Homo sapiens: one gene and its partners. The protein of the gene in region 1 purifies or fractionates together with the protein of each later gene. This does not show direct contact. Each region holds a gene or a part of one and is shown in the gene's direction. Other genes may lie near its edges.

Evidence for each region. Proteins that work in one complex are often made in the same cells at the same time.
Region 2: the proteins of DEFA1 (region 1) and IGSF3 purify together in Homo sapiens (affinity purification with mass spectrometry, with the first as the bait; 2 studies listed by BioGRID). This does not show direct contact.
Region 3: the proteins of DEFA1 (region 1) and TKFC purify together in Homo sapiens (affinity purification with mass spectrometry, with the first as the bait; 2 studies listed by BioGRID). This does not show direct contact.

Annotation. Positions count from the first base shown.
Region 1 is NC_000008.11:6,977,146-6,984,060, reverse strand, and holds DEFA1 (neutrophil defensin 1 preproprotein), read left to right. Parts: upstream 1-3,968; 5' UTR 3,969-4,048; intron 4,049-4,900; exon of another isoform or gene 4,901-4,935; coding exon of another isoform or gene 4,936-4,944; intron 4,945-5,414; coding exon of another isoform or gene 5,415-5,426; coding exon 5,427-5,601; exon of another isoform or gene 5,602-5,732; intron 5,733-6,181; coding exon 6,182-6,291; 3' UTR 6,292-6,412; downstream 6,413-6,915.
Region 2 is NC_000001.11:116,664,713-116,671,791, reverse strand, and holds the start of IGSF3 (immunoglobulin superfamily member 3 isoform 2 precursor), read left to right. Parts: upstream 1-4,058; 5' UTR 4,059-4,174; intron 4,175-4,323; exon of another isoform or gene 4,324-4,431; intron 4,432-4,835; 5' UTR 4,836-5,465; coding exon 5,466-5,508; intron 5,509-7,079.
Region 3 is NC_000011.10:61,329,076-61,336,248, forward strand, and holds the start of TKFC (triokinase/FMN cyclase), read left to right. Parts: upstream 1-4,152; 5' UTR 4,153-4,254; exon of another isoform or gene 4,255-5,544; 5' UTR 5,545-5,653; coding exon 5,654-5,656; intron 5,657-6,764; exon of another isoform or gene 6,765-6,862; intron 6,863-7,128; exon of another isoform or gene 7,129-7,173. Other genes in the region: DDB1 (DNA damage-binding protein 1), read right to left, coding at 288-509, 883-999, 2,468-2,616, 3,833-3,893.

The DNA of each region.
Region 1 (6,915 bases):
GAGCCATTTTCACCTCCATTTTTATGTGAAAAGAGTCAGGGATTTAGGGCCATATTTTAAAACAGCTCAAGGAAGCTATTTCCTTATGGTTTATTGTAAAATAAACCTGCTGCAATCCTCAACACCAGACACACAGACAGCTTGTGAGAGGCGGCTGGGAAAGGCAGACAAAGGGCAGGGACTTGGAGCTCCTACCTGTCCCAGCTGGATCTGCAGGCCCGGGAGTGACTGTGTGGCACAGGCAGCACCAGGACCCTCCCTGCAGGACAGTGGACAAAGGGCTGAGGGGAGGGACAGCGCGATGCACTCTGAGGAGCTGGGAGGTGGAGGGTCCTCCTCAGAGCTCACCTCTGCGTAGCCCCCGCTGCGCCCCATGGTAACACGCATGCTGTGTTCCATGACTACCCTTTCCTACCGGGTCAAAACCATAACCCCAGGGCCCCGCCCAAGGTCCACACACACTGTGTCTGCTGAGGCCACCAGACACCATAAACATGTGTGAGAATATGTGTGCTGCTCCTGGAAGCTTCTCTCCTCTCACACCTACAACCCCACCCACAGCTTCTCCAGAATGTTTACCCCAGCCTAATGATGTCAAGGTTTTTATTGAGTCTAGACTCGCTTCAATATTCCCTAAAATTCAAATGCGTGTGTCTGAAAAAAACAGCTTCAGCTGCATCTACATATAGTGTCCACAGTGTGGACACTGATTGTCTACACTGGCTGCAATCAGTGGAAAACATCAGGCTGGGGTTGGGGACTATGGATCAACATGGAAGTGAAAGTACTGTAAAAAATCTGTAGGCATAACACCTTTTTTGTTTAAACCACAAAATTCTGCCAAGGTTCTGGTGCAGCCAAAAGAGAAAAGTGAAAAGGACCACAGGGAAGAATCTCTCTGTTCTAATTTGAGTTTGGAGTTTGAGAATCACCTGCCGAAGGATGGCGACAATGCCTAGGTGTGACCTCAGTACAGACTGAGACCCTGCTGGGGCTCTGGGCTGCTGAGTCCTGACCGCAGTCTATGGAGGAGGCAAGGATGGGAGCATGGCCATGAGGGAGACACAGAGCAACGTCCCAGCAGATGGTTCCCAGTCCTGCAGCCAAGAATGGCAGGGAAGGAGAGCACAAGACTGGGTTGGGGCAGAGAAGGCCACCCCTCCAGGGACAGGAGCCACCAGTGACTCTGAGCCAGCTGGAGGGTCTCTGTTCTCCCTCAGCTCCCCAAATCGCTCTGGGTGCTGCATGTAAAGCCACCGCCTGGGCCAGGACATATGTCTGTGGCAGAGCTGCTGCACCCGCTCTCCCTCTTCCTGGACAGTGGCCACGTTTCTGGAGGACACACTCATGGCCCCTCCAGCACTGTTGTAAAGATTCTGGGCATCAATTTGTCATCAGTGGGCTGACAAAGTCCCCTTGCAGTTAAAAACCAAATCCTCACCACTAGTGTCCTAGCCACTTTGCAGCTGGCCCTCCATGTACTGGGACATCGTGTCTTTGGAGACAGCTATACCCCACTTGTCCATTCTGCTGAGGCCCACAAATGCCATCACCCAGAAGCCCTTCACATCCACTGGGGCCACAGCAGGATACAGTCTGTTGCTGGTCCAGCAGGTGATCTCTCTAGTCCATGCCCGGGTCCCGGGTTCTGAGTTTCATGGGGAGGCCCTCACTACCACCCATCATAAGTCTCAGAGCCTCTGGACAAAGCACACCTGTCCTAACTATGAGCTTCTGCACATGTAGTCTTCCAGGGACCGTAGCTCCTTATGCCCTGCGTGGAGCAGGTGTTCTCTTTACGTGGCATTTCTTCACTATCTCCTTTAGAACCACACCTATCATTGATTCAGATGGAGGCTCCCACCTCAGGACATCACAACATGAGGGTGGGTTAAGGGAGTCTCATTTAGTCCATCGTCCCCAAGCCACCAGCCTCCTCAAGCAGCACGGTGGCCTCCTAAAGTCATGGTTATTAATGTCTCTGGATGTGCTATGGACACCCAAGGCACCAAGGTCCTTCCAAGGGCCGTCACTTTTTTAACTCTCAATCCCATGGCCACCACTGCCTCATCACAATTGGGCTAGACGCACTTTGGTGCCTATCTTGGTGATCACAGAAGAGTTAGCTTCTTTTTTCCCTTACAGATAACATCATTTACATGTTCTCCAATAATGAGACCTCCCCATATCATCACAGGACATCCACCATCTCAACATCAAACATATACTGAACAATGGACTGTGGATGGATAGTAAACTACGATCTTCTGAGGATAACCCCCCAGGCCCACTGGCACCCAGCAGGACCACGAGGCTTTTGTTAGACCACACCTCTCCATTTCACATGCAGCTTCTGGCAAAAGCTCCCTTTTTTACCGGTTTTAAAGGTTAGCTAATATTTCCCACTTACTTCTCCTGGCAGGAAGTAGGGATTATTGCTCCAGAACCCACCGAGGGTGCAGTCAGAGGCAGTAACGAGGAGAAGAAGCCTTCAAACTAGAGACACCAACTACGTCAGGCAAAGACCATATGGAAGTGCCATCACCAAACGTGGCCATGGGGGAGAAAGGCTCCAAGGAAAAGTGGGTGCCAGCCAACCCCATCATCAGTGTCAATATAGAAGCACTGGGAAGAAAGCCCTGAGTGACAAGATGTCAGTGTTCTCTATGATTGGCCTTGCTTGGTATCTTATGTACAAATGGCTTGTGGGGTAGCTGTTTAACCCAGGCCTGGCAGCCTAGAGGGCTGCTGGAACAGGACAGCCCTAGTCAGAATTTGTACCCCAGACTGGAAAACTGGGGAATTCCCTGTAAGCCCTGTTACAGGGGCTGCACCCCAGATACAACCTGACCTGTGTCCAAGGCGGGCAACTCAACCCTTAGATATTGAATGGGTCCCATGGCACCAATGCTTAAACACCAGCAGCCCTCACAACCACAGATCGTGTTTTAAGGATGAGGAGGTAGTTCTCTGGATGCACAGGCTTCAATCCAAATGGGCTCATGACGCCGCAGCACACACCCAGACTGCAGCCTGAAGAGTTGGAGCATTGCATTCACAGAAAGCATCCAGACATGATCATGGGCTCAGGGATACACCTGTTCTCCGATGTGTACCAGTGAAGGATGGAAACTCCTATGCCTCCCAGAAAGCACCACTCAAGCTTTTGCTGAATGCTTCTCTGAAGGCCCACAAGGCCTGAGAGGCTGTGCAACACCAGCAGTAAAGTGAATGCCCAGACTCCCACCTCCTTTCTTGGGTGGCCATCTGGAAAGGCCACTCCCACCCTGATGGCTAATGCCTCAGACCAGTTCTTGGCCCAGATGATCCTAGACAATTGTTTAAGCTTAAACTGTTCATTGGCCAAGCAAACAGGTGATAGTCACCTCTGGGGAACCACATGCCGCGTGTACATCCAGTACTCAGGAGAACCCAAAAATGTCTGTTCCACATAGCAACAGAAGCCCAGGTAGCACTCAGTCTCACCTGGGTGTTCTCCAACATCCCAGCTCAGCCAAATGGCTTTCATTAGTTTTTATGGTTAGACCCCAGGTCCTCGGGACACTGCTTTAGAAACACATTCCAAATCCTCCTCTGTGTGCAGGTGGCATTCCTATCCCAATCTCTTTGCAGGGCGTATACTGTGATACGCAGCCAGGCTGTCCCAGAGGCCTTAAATATTCCCTTGGTGCAGGTAGTTCAGCTTAGCCACAGCCAATGCATCACAGGGTCAACTGTGTTAGGAGCCATTGAGAATCCATAGTTGGTTGCTGCCTGGGCCTGGCCAGGGCTGACCAAGGTAGATGAGAGGTTCCTCTGTGGAGTTCTACTTTAACCTCACCTTCCCACCAAATTTCTCAACTGTCCTTGCCACCACAATTATTTAATGGACCCAACAGAAAGTAACCCCGGAAATTAGGACACCTCATCCCAAAAGACCTTTAAATAGGGGAAGTCCACTTGTGCACGGCTGCTCCTTGCTATAGAAGACCTGGGACAGAGGACTGCTGTCTGCCCTCTCTGGTCACCCTGCCTAGCTAGAGGATCTGTAAGTACTACAAAACTTAAACTTTACACTGAGTTTTCATTATTGAAGCTATGCCTCCAATCTGACCTCTGACTGTGGGGCCACCCCAGAGGGAACCAGCGGGCGAATCCCTGCTAGGAACGTCTGTCCGGACCTCTGGTGACTGCTGGGGACGATGGCTTCCAGCTAACTTAATAGAGAAACTCAAGCAGTTTCCTTCTAAACACACATGTCACATGTCCTGGTTGACATGTCCAGTAGAGACTATCACAGGTCTTTGGAACATTCTTTTGAGAGAAACCTATTTAGGTCCTTGGTCTGTTTTTCAATCAGGTTGTTTGATTTTTGCTATTGAGTTGTTGGAATTCCTTATGTATTCAGATATTTGCCCCTTCGGCCATGTAGGTTTTGCAAATATTTTCTCTCATTTTCTGGGTTATCTTTTCACTCGGTTGATTGTTTCCTTTGCTGTGCAGATGCTTTAGCGTTAAATGAAGCCACACTTGTCTATTTTCCCTTTTATTGCCTGTGCCTTTGGTGTCATAGCCAAGAAATCATTACCTACATCAATGTCAAAAGCTTTATCCTTCTATACACTTCTAGTAGTTTATGGTTTCAGTTGTTACATTTAGGTTTTCAATTCATTCTGAGTTGATGTTTCTACATGGTGTGAGATAAAGATTTAAATACATACATATATAAAATCATGAGGTAGTGTACACTATAAATATACAATTGTTAATTGTTACTCAAGTCTAAGTAGAGGTGGAAATAATAAACTTTCTTTTTTTTACTTAAACCACTCTGTGTCACTGAGCTGATTTCACCTTTAGCCTGATAAAATCATTGTCCTCTCCACCCTGATTCCTACAGGAGACTACTCACCCCATAACCTCAAAAACCTCTTCATGAGGATGGTAAGTCACCTGAATCCTGAAGTGAATTACTCGCTATTCCATTGGAACTCATATAGGACACCAGAATCTAGACCTCCAGAGAACAGCAGGACCCATCTTCAGAAAATAAGAAGCATTTGTTCCCTGAGCCTGTTGAATCAAAGTGCAATTTCTATTCTTTTTGGAATGTTAAAAAGTGAATCATAATATTTAAGCAGGTGAACCCACGAGTAACATAGCAGGGTCTTTCTTGTCATTATTAGCTCCAACCTAGCACAGACATTAAAGGTACAGATGTATACTAGCATGAAACTGGGAGAACAGGAGCATTCGAGCAACCTTGAGACCAATGGGCCTCTCTTATAAAATGCACACCTCCTCTCACTGAGATTGAGGAAGGTTTCTTGTCTCCGAGCCTTCTCCCAGTAGAGCTATAAATCCAGGCTGGCTCCTCCCTCCCCACACAGCTGCTCCTGCTCTCCCTCCTCCAGGTGACCCCAGCCATGAGGACCCTCGCCATCCTTGCTGCCATTCTCCTGGTGGCCCTGCAGGCCCAGGCTGAGCCACTCCAGGCAAGAGCTGATGAGGTTGCTGCAGCCCCGGAGCAGATTGCAGCGGACATCCCAGAAGTGGTTGTTTCCCTTGCATGGGACGAAAGCTTGGCTCCAAAGCATCCAGGTGAGAGAGGCAGGCATGCAGAGCTGCTAAGTCTAGAGGGAAGGACGGGAGAGAGGTTCCAGAGTTGGGTCTCAGCAGTCTATGTCACTGAGGTGGCTTCACTTAGAATCTCTGGGCATTGATTTTCTCATCTAGAAATTGAACAGAGAGCCAAATAAACATGAGAAACTTTATTTCTCCAAAGACTTGATTCCAAGAAACGTCTGTGAAATTCACTAAGTTTCAGATATGAAGAGACAGACTAGTTATTTCTGGATCTAAACAAGTAGACTTAGTTGTAAAGAGAACATTTTACTCTATCTACAGAAGAGCTTTTAAAAACTGCAGCCAAGCCTGAGGATATGTTCAGGTGTGTGTGTGATGGGGCAGGAATGCAAAAATGAGAGCAAAGGAGAATGAGTCTCAAATTCTGAGTGACAAGCACTGCTCTGCGTGTTTATTCCTATCGACTGAGGTTGTTCGTGCTAACGGCTGCAATGCAGCCAGCATCACCTGTCAGCTAGCATGTGACTTCCCCGAGATTCTTTTTCTTACCCACTGCTAACTCCATACTCAATTTCTCATGCTCTCCCTGTCCCAGGCTCAAGGAAAAACATGGCCTGCTATTGCAGAATACCAGCGTGCATTGCAGGAGAACGTCGCTATGGAACCTGCATCTACCAGGGAAGACTCTGGGCATTCTGCTGCTGAGCTTGCAGAAAAAGAAAAATGAGCTCAAAATTTGCTTTGAGAGCTACAGGGAATTGCTATTACTCCTGTACCTTCTGCTCAATTTCCTTTCCTCATCCCAAATAAATGCCTTGTTACAAGATTTCTGTGTTTCCACCTCTTTAATGTGTGATATGTGTCTGTGTCAAGACACTTGGGATACACGTACCAAAACGCAAAATCAAATTTTTGAACAATATAAAATTCCAAATTCTAGGAATTTCAAGCAGGAGTTTGGGCTTCAGATCCAAATTGAAAAGAAGGCCCATATGACACCACTGATTTCCCCACCCACTGCTCTGCCTTTTCACCCTGCCTCATTTTCTCTGGATCCACTCTCAAAGAGCTCGCGTGTGCTGGGCAAACAATCGGTGTCAGCTTACATTTCATGCAGTCACAAAATCATTACTTCTCCGGGAAAAAAAAACCATCCTCTGTGCTAAAGAATTGGAGTTTCATTGAACAATGTCAGATTGTACATTTTCCTTTTAAGACATAGGGTTACATGAGATCCACGGAAAAAACTTTCATTCAGAGGGAAATGGGTTGTTAGCAAAGGCGGGATACATGGAACAGAAAGCACAGCATCTCACATTGGCACGTCCT
Region 2 (7,079 bases), on another chromosome or scaffold:
CTTTTCCTCACTCTAGGAAGAACTAGAAAGAGAGGGATTAATTTATTTTTGAAACACTAGTTTCCAATGAGCAAAATTAAGAATAATTTTTTTTTAATGTGGATTTCCTGATTCTCTTAAAAAGTAGGAAAATCAGGCAACACCACACCTTCCTTCCCAGCAGCAACACTTTGCTGAAGCTGTGCGTGCTCTTTCAGGCTGTGCTCTGGGTGCACAGGCCCCAGTACTCCCTGGCACTGTGCTTCAGCTCGGCTTCTGCAGGCTTCTGCATTTAACTCCCTGATGGACAAGATCAAGGAGTCTTCCAAAATGTCCAAAATAAACAACTGATTCCAGGCCGGTGCAGTAGAGGTTTCAAAATTCAAATGCAGAATGTTTTGAAGCAAGCTGGAATGTTCAGCCCGGGCACCAGACATTGCTGACTGGGGACTTCGGTGCACTCCTCTCCTTTGACATCTCTCCTTCCCTTAGGACTCTCTCTTTCTCTCTCTCTCTCTCTCTTTCTTTCTTTCTTTCTCTCTCTCTTTCTTTCTTTTCTTTCTTTCTCCTTCCTTCCTTCCTTCCTTCCTTCCTTCCTTCCTTCCTTCCTTCCTTCCTTCCTTCTCTCCCTCCCTCCCTTCCTTCCTTCCTTTCTTTCTCTCTGTCTTTCTTTCTGACAGAGTTTCGCTCTTGTTGCCCAGGCTGGAGCTTGTTGCCCAGGCTGGAGTGCAATGGCACGATCTTGGCTCACTGCAACCTCTTCCTCCCGGGTTCAAGAGACTCTCCTGCCTCAGCCTCCTGAGTAGCTGGGATTACAGGCATGCACCACCATGGCCGGCTAATTTTTTGTATTTTTAGTACAGACAGGGTTTCTCTATGTTGGTCAGGCTGGTCTTGAACTCCCAATCTCAGGTGATCTGCCCACCTCAGCTACCCAAAGTGCTGGGATTATAGGGGTGAGCCACTGTACCCAGCCTCCAATTCACTTCTCTGCCTGCTGATGAACTCCTGAAGGGGCCACCATCACATCACTGTTCAGGACTCATTTAATCGTTTCTATGTCTGGAGGGCAGAGGCATTCTTTTAAATTATACTTTTGTCTCCCCATCCAACACTTTGCACAGTTCTTTGCATATCGTAGATGTGGAAATTAGAAAGAATGCCATGCTGGGAATCAGCCATAACACATCTGGGTGGTGATGGAAGTCAAGGGTTGAAAGATCATCCAGAAGGATGCAAGGGGCCAAGTAGTATGAAGAGGGGCAGGTTGAGATTGAAAGAACGAGTAATAGAGAAGGGATAATTGAGTATAGGGGTTCAAGGATGAAGGCCTAGGCAGAGGCCTCAGAAAGTACAGTCTTGCACCTTGATGGGGGTACACCTTGGTGGGGGTCAGAGAGTTCCAAAGCAGGCTGAGATGCCCCTTCTGGAAGATTCCTTGACTCTTCTCTTTCTCTCCCCCTCCATATTCAGTTCTTCAGAGAATTTCATTGACTCTGCTTTCTAAATGCTTTCAGACTCCACCCATTTCCACAACCTGCATCAGCACCACCCTAGTTTAAGCTGTGATCATCTCTCACCTGCGCAATGGAAAGAACCTCCCATCCAGTGTCCCTTGTCCACCCCTACCATCTGATGCTCTATTCTTACCCAGCAGCCAGAGTGAGCCAAGCTCCTCAGGTTAGAAGGTCCTACTAGATTTGGCCTCTTTGACCTCTCTGATCACATTCCTCCTTCTCCTTCTGTTTTATGCCATTTCAGACACACTAACACACCTTTAATTTTCTGAACATGTTATGGGGCTTTGCACTTGCTGTTCCCTGCACTTGGAATCTTCTTACTCCAGAAATCTCCAGCGCTCACACACTCCCTGTAATCAGGTCTCGCTCAAATGTCACTTCCTCTGAGGGGTCTTTTCTGACCACCTCACCTAGCAAAGAGTCCTTCTTCCCACTGGAACCCCCAAACATACACACTATTTCTTTTCCTTTCTGTTTTTTATTTGTTTGTTTGTTTGTTTTGGAGATACTCTCGCTCTGTTGCCCAGGCTGGACTGCAGTGGTGTGATCTCAGCTCGTTGCAACCTCTGCCTCCCAGGTTCAAGCGATTCTCATGCCTCAGCCTCCCAAGTAGCTGGGACCACAAGTGTGCACCACCACGGCTGGCTAATTTTTGTATTTTTTGTAGAGACAGGGTTTCGCCATGTTGGCCAGGCTGGTCTCGAACTCCTGACATCAAGTGATCCCCCTGCCTTGGCCTCCCAAGGTGCTGGGATTATAGGCATGAGCCACTGTGCCCGCCCACACATTTCTATACTCCACTTTTCTTCAGAACACGTTACATTATATTATATACTTGTTTCATTGTCTGTGTTTCCCACCAGAATGTAAGCTTCATGAGAGCAGAGACTTTTCTTAACACGTAGTAGGTGCTCAATAAATAAATGAAGGAGTCTAGCAAATGGGAACTGAGAGCTGCCAGAGTCACGGGTGTCTCTGGGAAAGAGGTAATAATTAACACACAAGGAAAGATTCCTGGTTGGGCACAGTAGCTCATGCCTGTAATCTCTGCACTTTGGGAGGCTGAGGCGGGCAGATCACCAGGTCAGGAGTTCAACACCAGGCTGCCCAACATGGTGAAACACTGTCTCTACTAAAAGTACAAAAATTATCCGGGTGTGGTGGTGCACGCCTGTAGTCCCAGTGACTCAGGAGGCTGAGGCAGGAGAATCACTTGAACCCGGGAGGTGGAGGTTGCAGTGAGACAAGATTACACCACTGCATTCCAGCCTGGGTCACAGAGTGAGAACCTGTCTCTTAAAATAAAATGAAAAATAAAACGTATATCTGATAACCATAGTCCCTTACTCAACACCTTCAGTGGCTTCCCAATGGTCCCAACCCCTTAACACACCATACAATGCCCTCTAGGTTCTGGCACTCGATTTCTTCTCAGCTCATTTCTTGTCACTTCTCTCCTACAGTCAAGTTTGGGCCCAGCAGACTGTCCTGGTCCTCTAACTGGGCTCCTTTCTGGGCCTGCAGAGGTGCTGTTTCTTCAGTCTGCGATTCCTTACCTCCCCTCTGTCTCTTCCTCTGCTGCTGCCTTCTGTTCTTTGGCATTCAACCGAGTTTTCCTTTCCTCTGAGAAGCCTGGGACCTACCCCGACCAAAGCTCCCTCCTCCTTGCCCCTCCCCCAATAACACAGGGTTGGGGTCTCTGCATTTGCTTCCTCAACACTGTACTTTTCTTGTCATGTCTATTTTATGGTCTGTGTCCCCACTAGACTGCAAGTTGCATGAGGGCAGGGCGGTCTATTCTGCTTTGGTCGCCTCGTGACGGTGTCTACCCAGCAAGTTGTGTGTGTTGGGTAAGTAGTGAGAAAACGAAAAAGCACTTGCTTTACAGGGCGGTTGGTCATAAAATAATAATAGCTTATATTTACTGACCACTTGTGATGTATCAGGCACCATTCTAAATGCTTTACAAGTATGTCACAGATTTCTCCCATAACCCTCTTAAGTAAGGGTTATTTCCTCCACATAGCAGATGGGGAAATTGAGGCACAGAGAGGTTAAGTAACTTGCCAAGGGCCACAGCGAGGAAGTGGAGGAACCGGCGTTAGAACCCAGGCTGTTTCCAGAGTCCAAATTCTATCCAAGAGTGAAGTGCAATATGGGGTTCCACTTCGTGAACAGATTCAAGTCTCCAAAGGGCTTTGTTTTTGTTTCCAGGAGGAAGGACGAGCTTCTGTGCCGCCGGCTTCCCAGGTTATGGGTGGCCAGCTGGGCTTTGGGAAGGGCCTGTACATCTCGCCGGCGGCCCCGGAGTCTGGGTGTGAAGCCCTGATTAACTTGCCGGGCTGCTCGGCCCACACGCCAGCCCTGCCCAGGTCCTCCGGTGCCCCGGGCCACCCTCATGCCCCCGCCAGGCCCGGGGCCGGGACTCGCGTCTCCAGGGGCGGGGCCGGGGGCGGGGCCGGGCCTCTCTTCGAGGCCGCCGCCCTGGCCCCGCGCTCGCCTCGCCGAGTGCGGCGGGCCGGGCTGGAGCTGGAGGGGCGGGGACTCGGGAGGGGCCGCAGCGCGGCTGCTGGTGCCGTTGCGGGAGAAGAGGAAGCGGCGCGTCCCCTGAGGCGTGCGCCTGGATGGACTGAAGGACGGTCCGACGCGCGCGGAGGGAGAGGGCCAGGGGCGAGGTCAGGCTCGGCGGGGGCGCGGGCGGCGCCCGGAGGGGGCCCCGGGGAGGGAGGCGGGGAGGCGTGGAGCGGGGAGCGGGGAGCGGGGAGTGGGGAGCGGGCCCGCGCCGGCTGAGCTCCGGGTCGGGCCCGAGACCCCTCCCCTGGCTGGGCGGGCGCGCTGCGAGCGCGCTCCGGCAGCTGAAAGCGGAGCTCCGGACTCCCTTCTTCCCCGGTTTCTTTTCTTTCCAATCAGCGAGATATAAACACCCTGCAAGGTAAAACAATAGCGGGGCCACCTGGGACGCGTCGCGCGCAGAGCTCCCACGGTTGGGGCGGGGGCCGGGAGTCGCGGCCCCACCGCGGAGCCCCTTCCCGATTTGCCCTGGCGGAGGGTGGGGCTACCTGCGGCGCCCGGGCTCGGTAGGAGGTGACGGGAATTCCCAGGAGTGAAGCATTTGGTGGAAGTATTTCAGGAACAATCGGGCTTCCCACTGTTGCCCTGCTCTGGGCAGGGAAACTGAGGCGGAGGGAAAGACAGAGACTTGCCCAAGGTCAGAATGCAGAGGTTGACTGTCCTGGTCCAGGAACCGGACCCAGGTGTCCGGACCAGCTCAGCGCTCAGCCCCAGTGGGTTTTGCAGCTTTGCCTTTGATAAAAATCTCTGTTGTGTTTGTTTTAGAAATCTGCTCGCGCTGGGGTACCGCTTCAGGGCTGCCGAACGCCAACTTGCTTCGTGTGCCCTAGGCAGGCGTGGGGCAGGTGGCGCCTCCGTGACCTACCACCATGGATGGAAACGGACTTTTTGGTGAAGAAACCCAAACGGTTGATGCCAGGCAGGGTGATTTGGCCGTCAAAGGTTTTGACGAAACCTGCCCTGTTCTCTCTGGGGAATCCGAATGAGGGAGATCACAGACACCTTCACTGAGAAGCCAAGGACATTTCTGTATAATCAGTGGATGAAAGGATTTTCTCAGACCCTTTTTTCCGTGCTTCTGGAGGATTAATCCACTACAGTCTGCAATTTCAGTGGAAACTGCAAGGCACACGATGTGGCAGGAGCCGGGAGCGACTTCCGAATTGTTGTGGACCCTTCCTGTAGCATAGGGGAGTTTTCACACTTGCCTCCACTCCTCCCCTTCCCCCCAACTCCCTCCTTCTGATCTCTTCTTTTTAATCTGTTCCCATTTTCCGAGTTAAGTTCTATTTCCAAAACTGTTCTCTGGAGCTATAAGTGGATTGCCAGAAATGAGAGATTAGGAGCTGGGAGAAGAGGAAGCGCCTTGTGTTGTGTCTCCTGGAGGCTGCCGACATGAAGTGCTTTTTCCCGGTGCTGAGCTGTCTGGCTGTGCTGGGTAAGTGGCTCTGCTTATCAGTGCAATCGATGTGAAAGTTTAACCTGCTCTTGGTTCCTGTAATTTCTCGTGGTTCTTTTTCATCAACACTAGGATTTGGGGGACACCAGGAGGCGGTCGGTGTGTGTCACAGGTTGGAGTAGAGTACGAAGAGGCCCGTTTCTAACCCAAGAGCAACGGTGGAATATCATTTGTTATCTATAAGAAGGAACATTTGCTGTTCTTAAAGTGTCTGTCTTGGCCCCTGGGGTGAGGTCCTGCATCTGCACATCTGTGGTTTAGGGACTTCACATGGCTGGTGGGCTGCTGTCTTGTAGCATGTCAAACATGGATGCTCTGGTGTTTTCACTTCTTTGTTGGGCTGCATTGATTCCTAATTGGGAGTGGGAACATCATTCCCCTCTGTCTCGAAAGTTGGTTTGGGTGATAATGATGGTGCCTTTTTTGAGGTGGAAATGGGAGTAAGTGGGATGGGGGTTGAAGGGATGCTTTGCCTACCTGAGTGGTCTGAAGGCTAAAAATGTGAGGGCACTAGTCCTGTGTCTCCTCACCAAGGAAGCTTAGATCGTAGTTCTGGGAGAAGGAGAGCCTGAAGAAAAGGAAGCTGCCTGGTAGGGGAGATTTTAGGATTGGCTTTTGTGCTCCCACAAATCAGAATGCCTAGAGTGGGAAGAAGAAACTATGGCCCTGAGAGGTGAACCTTTGACACCCCTCTTAAGGTGCAGATGCAGGACCTTCACCCCAGTGAAGAGGCCCCTCTGCTCAACAATTGCCTATTCTTTTTATGCCATTGAGCACTGTCTTCAGCGTGCTGTCTTAGAACACATCTCAGGTCTAGGATAAACTTCATTGCCAGGATTTGGTGCCATTCTCTTTCCCCATCTCAGACCTCATACATGAGCACACCCCCTGCCCTCTCTGTAAGGCTCGGTCCTCTGCATTCAGAAGGGATTATGATTGTTGCCTACAGGGTTCACGTCTCCAAATCTAGGTGTCTTGCACGTAGGGAACTTAGGGTGATCTGTTGGCAGTGGAGATTGCTTCCATGCATTGTCTACACCCTTGCAGTAGGTAACAGGTGTGTGGGAAGAGAATGGACTTTAGAATTAGAGGACCTGAGTTCCTATCCCAGCTTCACCATGATTGACATCTGAATGTCAATAAAACAGAAACAATAAAACAAGGGAAGGTGTGATAACTAAAGGATATAAGGTGTCCTAAATGCCTTGACTGCCTTAAATAATGTCTGAAACTCATAATAGATTTGTGCAATCAGTGGTTCTCAAACTCTCGTGTGCATGTTGGAATCACTGGGGAAGCTTTTAAAAATTCTGATTTCAGGCAACAACCCCAGATCAGTGAAACCAAACTCGCTTAGGGAGTGGGACCCAGGTCTCAGCCTTTGAGCTATCTCAGGTAATTCCATGCATGGTTCAGTAGAGAACCAGTGGGTGAGTTCACTAGCGCCAGTGCCCTACCACCCAACGCATGCAGACACCCTGCTGGTAGTTTAGTTAGTCTTCTGTTCAGCTGTGGGCTGGGATACAGGCAGTGTCTCCATGTCACCTGTA
Region 3 (7,173 bases), on another chromosome or scaffold:
TAAACTGGGTCATCCTATGAAATCTCCCAAGGCCCACAACCAGAGTGTAATCTCAGGATTAAAACCTGCTACAAGCCCCAGAGAGCTTGCTGCCTCCACAATAAGTACTACTGCACTCAAGAAGCAACGAAAGTCTGACCCATATTAATTGTGTTGTTCAAAACATTTCAGGACAAACACATTAAACACTTCTCTCTATCCTACCAAACCCAGACATGCCAGTTAGCAAAAACAACTCCTATCACATCAACCTCACAGTTTCTCGCTCTCTCTTCCTGATCCAGTACCTGGTAGACAAAGCAAATAGTAGGTGCTTGGCAACCATATAGGAACTTGACATCAATGACATGCAGCTCCTCCAGGCGGATGTTGAAGGCCTTGAGTTCTTTATTATCGCGATCTAGTGGAATAACCTTGAAAAGGCCATCATAGAGACGCAGGCCAATCATCCGGCACTCAGGGTCAATGATGCCAATAATGCCGGTCTCTGAGGGGCGGCCAATGCGGTCCTGAGAAACAAAATCGGGATTAGGGAAGAACCTCAACATCCACAGAGCAACAGAGGACGCTGGGCACCACTTGTGCAGAAAAATTTTAGGAGAGGTATTAAAACTAATGGATCTATTTGATAGGCCAAATAGTTGGAGCCCCAATGTCAGTGCATGCCTTTTTCATGAAACACTGAATCTCAATGAATTATTACCCTGTCCCTTGGGTCTTGAGTGAACTACAGGAGTCCTTTCTCCAAAAAGCTCAAACCCATAGTGTCTTCTCCTTATTTCTCTGATCGAATAGAGAGCTGCCCCCAGCACTTTAATTTTTTCCATGAATCATGACAGCCCTACTTAGAAAACTTTCATTGGCCTAAAGCAGCCACCTCACCTGGACATTGCCATGGGCTCGCGTAATGATGTCAATGCTCTCGCCACTCTGTTTATACTCCAGGATGCAGGCATTGTACTTCGCTGTCAAGATAAACAGCAGGTCCTTGCTCTCCCCCTGGAAACCAATATTATGCTATCAAAAGAGGTTCTTTTTAAAACAGGAACAACCTGTCCAGTCTTTAAGCACACCAAATTCTTTAAGAATTTTCCAAATTCTTCTCTCCCTAAAGAGAAAATACATGGTGAGCTTGTAACCCACACTAGGTACACATACACCCTAAGGGCATGTACAAAAAGCCAGAACTGAAGCTGGTAAACATCTAGTTCTCACTTTCATGATTCTCCATCTCTCTGTTCTACAAACAAAGTCTTCATCTATTTCAATCTCAAGCTAATCTCAATCATCCCATTCAAATTCTGAAAGATGAATGTAATGCCTCCTCCACTCCTCCCCAAGTATTTGAAGAAAGAGGAAAAAAAATGTGGGAATAACAACGGAAGCTAAAATGGATCAACAAAGTCCTACTTATTTAACACAGACTCCAAAAAATTGCTGTTTTGTTCAAAGGGTTATAATTAAAATTTTGAACCCACTGCTTTCTTGCCAGATTCAGTTAAGACAACATAAAGCAATGTGGTGGTGATTTGGATGAAAACATTTGCGCTAAAATAATGAAAATACTGATGGTAATTGTTTTTTTTGTTTGGTGTTTTTTTTTTTGGAGATGGAGTCTCGCTCTGTCACCGGGCAATGGGCGCCATCTCCACTCACTGCAACCTCCGCCTCCTGAGTTCAAGCAATTCTTGTGCCTCAGCCTGCCAAGTAGCTGGGATTACAGGCACGTGCCACCACACCCGGCTAACTTTTGTATTTTTAGTAGAGATGGGGTTTCACCATGTTGGCCAGGCTGGTCTCGAACTCCTGACCTCACGTGATCCACCCACCTCGGCCTCCCAAAGTGCTGGGGTTACAGGCGTGAGCCACCATGCCCGGCCTGGTAATTGTTAACATAACTGTAAATGCTTGCTATATGATAGGCCCTATGTTACTGAATCATTTCATCGTCACAACAACCCAGGGGATTTGATCTGAAAGGTGCCTTAAGTGGCACCTAAAGTCAGAATTAACAAGAAATGAAGCCAGGACTGCCCCACTCTGTAGCCTATCCTCTGAAACAAACTGCTTTAATTTCTCCCTTCTAAAGAAGTCAACTTCATAAATGTTTCCCTAATGAATCTCTCCTTTTACTTCTAGAAAGCTTGGTCAAGAGTACATACTGAAATTTGCTATCCAAAGAGAGAAAAAAGAGAAGAGTTTTTCTCCTAAAGCATATTCCACCCATCCCAAGAATTCGCAAAACAACCTAACACAGCCCAAGCACGGTGGCATGCCTACAATACCCCAGCTACTCTACTCCAGAGGCTAAAGTGGAGGGATTGCTTGAGCTCAGGAGTTCAAGACATCCTGGGCAACACTGTGAGACCCCCGTCTCAAAGAAAATAAATAAACAAACAAAAATAACATAAAACAACCTACGACCAACAGTTCCCCCTCCACTGCTTGTCCCAACTGCAACACTTACCTTGGGCCTGAAAAGCTCCATGACCGCAATCTTCCCATACATGCCCACCTCTTTGACGGGCCGAAGCCCCTCGGCGGTGACCACATAGATCTCTAATCTCGTGTTTTTGGCAATCAACAGGTTTAAGTCTTCGGCCGAAGTAAAGTGTCCTGAAAGAACAGACCCTCTAACTTTTGAACTCAGGGGAAGGGCCTCCCATCCCTTCAAAATAATCCTATCACTTATGTCTAAATACCTCCAGAATTCTCATTTACTTCACATACTTCTCCAACTCCCTCCAGCTACTCCCCTTCTTGCCAAATCCGGCACCTCAAAGAGTCTCAGTTCATGCATTCAACAAAGCTACTTCCCTAATCAGACTAAGAAAACTGGACTGGACCTAAGAGCCGTGTGTCCTCCAAATGACAATGACTGCGTAATCCCTTCTCATGCCTCTTGCCCCTCCAATTTTACTCTATTACAGTTACAGTGGCAGGCTCTAATTGAGAATGCCGGAGAAAGTGTTCACTTCTTCCAGTCTTCATCTAAAGTCTCACAAAACTTTTATCTGACAGACCAAGTCAAATGAAGAAGTCCCAGAGCTTTATATGAAAACACTGTTTTGTCCACACCCCCTGCCCTCCTGGCAGTCTACCAATACCTCCATCCACACTCAGCTACCTCCAACTCTGAACAACAGTTTTGTTTTGGAATCATGATTAGGGTGTATATAAACATGCAAGCTTGGGGTCTGCATATTCAGCTGAGAATGTGGGTTAAGATGACTCTTCCCGGGTTCTGAACATCGGTGTCCTTAACAATCCAAGCGCATCGTCAACAAGGCAAACCCAGCACTGGGCCAGGCAAACCAAACCCTCTTCTCCAGCAGGGCCCTCATGTAAACAACAGCCCCAGGCAAAGGGGTTAGCCTGAAGAGGGCTCCTCTCCCTCTGTGGGATAATGCGGGCATTCCTCACATCCCTCCACCTCCTGGGCCCCCCAGACTTCCCCACAGGAAAATCTTGACCCCAAAGTCGTCATTACCACCTCCCCTTTTCCTGGCCACAGAAAGCCAATCTCCGGGCCCAAACGACACCGCACAACCAACTCACACTCCTCTGTCTCACTGGGCCCGCCCTGTTCTCGAGGCCGAATGACCTCCCCAGGACGAAAGGGGACCCTCGAGAGCGGCTTCCAACCCCCAAAAAGCGCGTACAGGGACGACTCTTTCGAGGTCGCGGTGCTGGGGGAGGTTCCTCGGCCGCCAGCGCCTTCCATTCGCCGGGCCCACTCCTGCCCGGCCGCCCCCGGGGCGGCGGGCCTCCCTAGGCCGCGGCTCCCCCCAACTCCCTCACTCGCCGGGGTCTCCGGCCCCGGCAGCCTCACCGGTCACGCAGCCGTTCACGGCGGTGGGCTTCTGGGCCGTTACCACGTAGTTGTACGACATGTCGAGGCTTGGAGCGGCCCGTCGGGACTCGAGCGCGACACTAGAAAGAGGGACACAAGCGAAAAGACAGGTGGCCCCCAACAGCGCGCAGCGAACTCCACTGCCGCTGCCTCCGCCCCAGAGACACGTTGCAGGCCAGAGCGGCCGGGGCGCGGGGCATCACGGGACGGCCTCACCTGGCCTCTTGGAGGACTCCCGAAGCCCGAGGCCGCCAACCGAAGGAGGCCCCGCCCCCGGAGGCACCGCCTCGCCTCTTTCCGCCAGCGCCCGCAGGACCCGGATGAGAGCGCACGCTTCGGGGTCTCCGGGAAGTCGCGGCGCCTTCGGATGTGGCGGATGCGGCCGTGAGCCGGCGGGGGAGGTGCGCCAGTGTCCTCCGAGCTCGCCCGCAGACTCCCCACCCCGTTCCGCGCCCTTTGCCCTTCCCCGCATCCAGTCCTCCTTCCGTTGCTCCAGGAGCCCTCGGGCTGTTCCTCCTTTGGGAACGGGAAGGACTGCGGAGGCATAGAGAGGGAAGGGAGACCGCGATTCGTGCATATCCCAGACTAGAACCTTGCCTGCTTTCCTTTCACTGTCTCAGTTCCTCCAGATCCAGCTGGTGCCCTCGCCTGACGTTTGAACGACCACCTGCTCACCTCCTCCCTTTTGCGCGTTGATTCTTCAGACTTCAAAGGGCCCACCGGTCTGCTTGCCCAACGTTATTAGTGCCCCTATTGCTCTACAAATTCGAACCTCAAACACAAAACCAGTATTTCTCCGTAGGGAACCTTAATGAGCCAGGAGAGCCGTCAGCCCTGCAGCCTCCAGGGTACCCCACATCAAACAGGCTCCCCGGGAACAAGAGGAATACCACGTGGCTTGGCACACTCGCAGAATGCCAGAGAGGAGCCAACCCCCATTTTACAGATGAGGAAGCTGAGGCTTAGGGAGGAATTGGTTTACCTAAGACCCTCCCCACAACCCCAAGTAGGCTGAGGCAGAGCTATGTTGATTCTTCCTATTGTGCACCCACACAGAGGCCAACACGCTGCTGAACCAGGCTGAACTGAGGAAAAGCTAGAAAGTCATCGTGGTTTACATCTTGCCTTTCCCATAGCAGAGACTCTGCCTGACTTTGGAGGCACTGAATTATCAGTAGTAAAAACACACTCTGTAGAAAAACTAGACATTGGTTTAGATTCTGGCTGTTACCTGTATTACCTTGGACAAGTCCCTAGAGCTCTCTGAGTCTGTTTCCCAGAAGTAAAATGGGTCACAAACCTGGCTAGCTCCCCCCATTCCCTTCCCTTTTGGTGCCAAGGCCAGTGAGGGCAAGCGTGTGACGAGCTTTGTTAACTTTTTCGCTGCATGTGATGCCCGTGTAAAAGATAGTTATTCTGAGGATCACTGTCCTTTAGTGATGAAGTGGGTGCTGTTCCTGGACATAAAGGCAGACCTGTGCTTGACATGGATTGATCTGTCTTCTGGCAGTGAAGTGCAGGCATGAACCTTGGTCAGCCCCACACTCTTCTCCATCCGTAGCCCATGTACTAGAGTTTGGACTTGGACCGAAGTCTGGGGCAGCTCCCTAATTACTAGGGTGCTGAAGGCGTGATTGTGCCAGTCGACTGCGAGTTCCTTCCGCAGCTTGTATCGTTACCCACTCCTGCAGGTGCTGCTGCTGCCTCCACTGTACTCAGACCCAGGTAGCACAGGATTGTCCATCCTCCAGCAGCTCAGTGCAACGGTGTGAACTCAGCCTGTTTCAGAGCCTCCACACCATGGTGAGTCATACAGGGCCGGGACGGGAATGGCAGCATGGTCTCAAAGCAGGATCCCAGCCTTGGGCAAGCTAAAGCTCCTTACACTTTGACTGAGAGATGCTATTGCCTCCTGAGGCTCACGGGTGAAGAGAGAGGGTCATCCTCTCTCCCAGGGTCTGATCCCTGCTTTTCTTTGTTTCCTGGAGGCTGCTGGTCCCAGCCAGGCCTGGGGCTGCAGCCTCTTGAGTCCCTTCAGAGCCACTCTGCCCCTTATCTGGGTCTTGCATTCAGAGTAAAACAGTAACAGTTACCTGCTCTGTAATAGACATTGTACCGGTCACAGAAGGAATCGTGAAGAATGACCATGTGACCGTTCCTAACCTTGGGGCTTATGTGGGCCGGTCTGGAGCTGGGATCTACAGTGTGGGAGGCTGGCCATGTCCCTGGGCTTTGCTCCAGGCCCACTGATTTGAACCAAAACAAGCCTTGAACATATCTGGATTCAAATTTCAGCCTGCCACTGACCAGCTGCATGACCTTTTACAGACCTCTCTGCGCCTCTTTTTCTTCATCTGCATTATAAGGCAAATTAAGGCCTACCTCCAGTGGTTGTGTGGTGTTGATCAAGCAGAGTCCTGGAGGCCTCACTTGACTTCCTTTCCTTTTCCATCCTTTCAGGCCACTGAAACCAGGGATAGCACTGGTCCCTAAACCCTCTTCTGGCTCTGTAAAAGACAGATTATCATGATGGGGAGCAGGCCACTTTCTTGGAGGGTAGTGCTGCTGGAGGCTGGGCTTGGAGTGAGGCCAACTCACAACTTCATTGTGTGTTCCAGTCCCTGGTAGGCTCTGAGAGCCACAAACCCATGTCCTTTCTAGGGCAACCTCTGTCACCCTCCACTTCCCTCCAGCCCCTCGAGAAAGCAGCATGATATGGCCAAAAGGGAACCAGCTTTGGAGCCAGGCAGACCTGGACACCTGCTGGCTGTGTGACCTTGGGCAAAATAGTTTAACTGTGCCTCAGTTTCCTCACTGGGCTCATCTTTCCTCCATAGGGCTGTTGGGAAGTTTTGTTTTGTTTTAGTTTGGGTTTTTTTTTTTGAGACGGAGTTTTGCTCTTTTTGCCCAGGCTGGAGTGCAATGGCGCAATCTCGGCTCACCACAACCTCCGCCTCCCAGGTTCAAGCAATTCTCCTGCCTCAGCCTCCCGAGTAGCTGGAATTACAGGCATGTGCCACCACGCCCAGCTAATTTTGTATTTTTAGTAGAAATGGGGTTTCTCCATGTTGATCAGGCTAGTCTCGAACTCCCAACCTCAGGTGATCCACCCGCCTTGGCCTCCCAAAGTTCTGGGATTATAGGCATGAGCTACCACACCCGGCCTGTTGGGAAGATTAAATGAGACATGCTCAAAAACACTTAGAACTGGGCCTGGCTCTTAGTCACTGCTCAGCAAATGGAACCAATCTTATTGTTCTTCTTGCTCCCTACAGACCTAGGCTACTCTGAAGCAGGTGGCTTAGCCCTGGCCCTGGCTG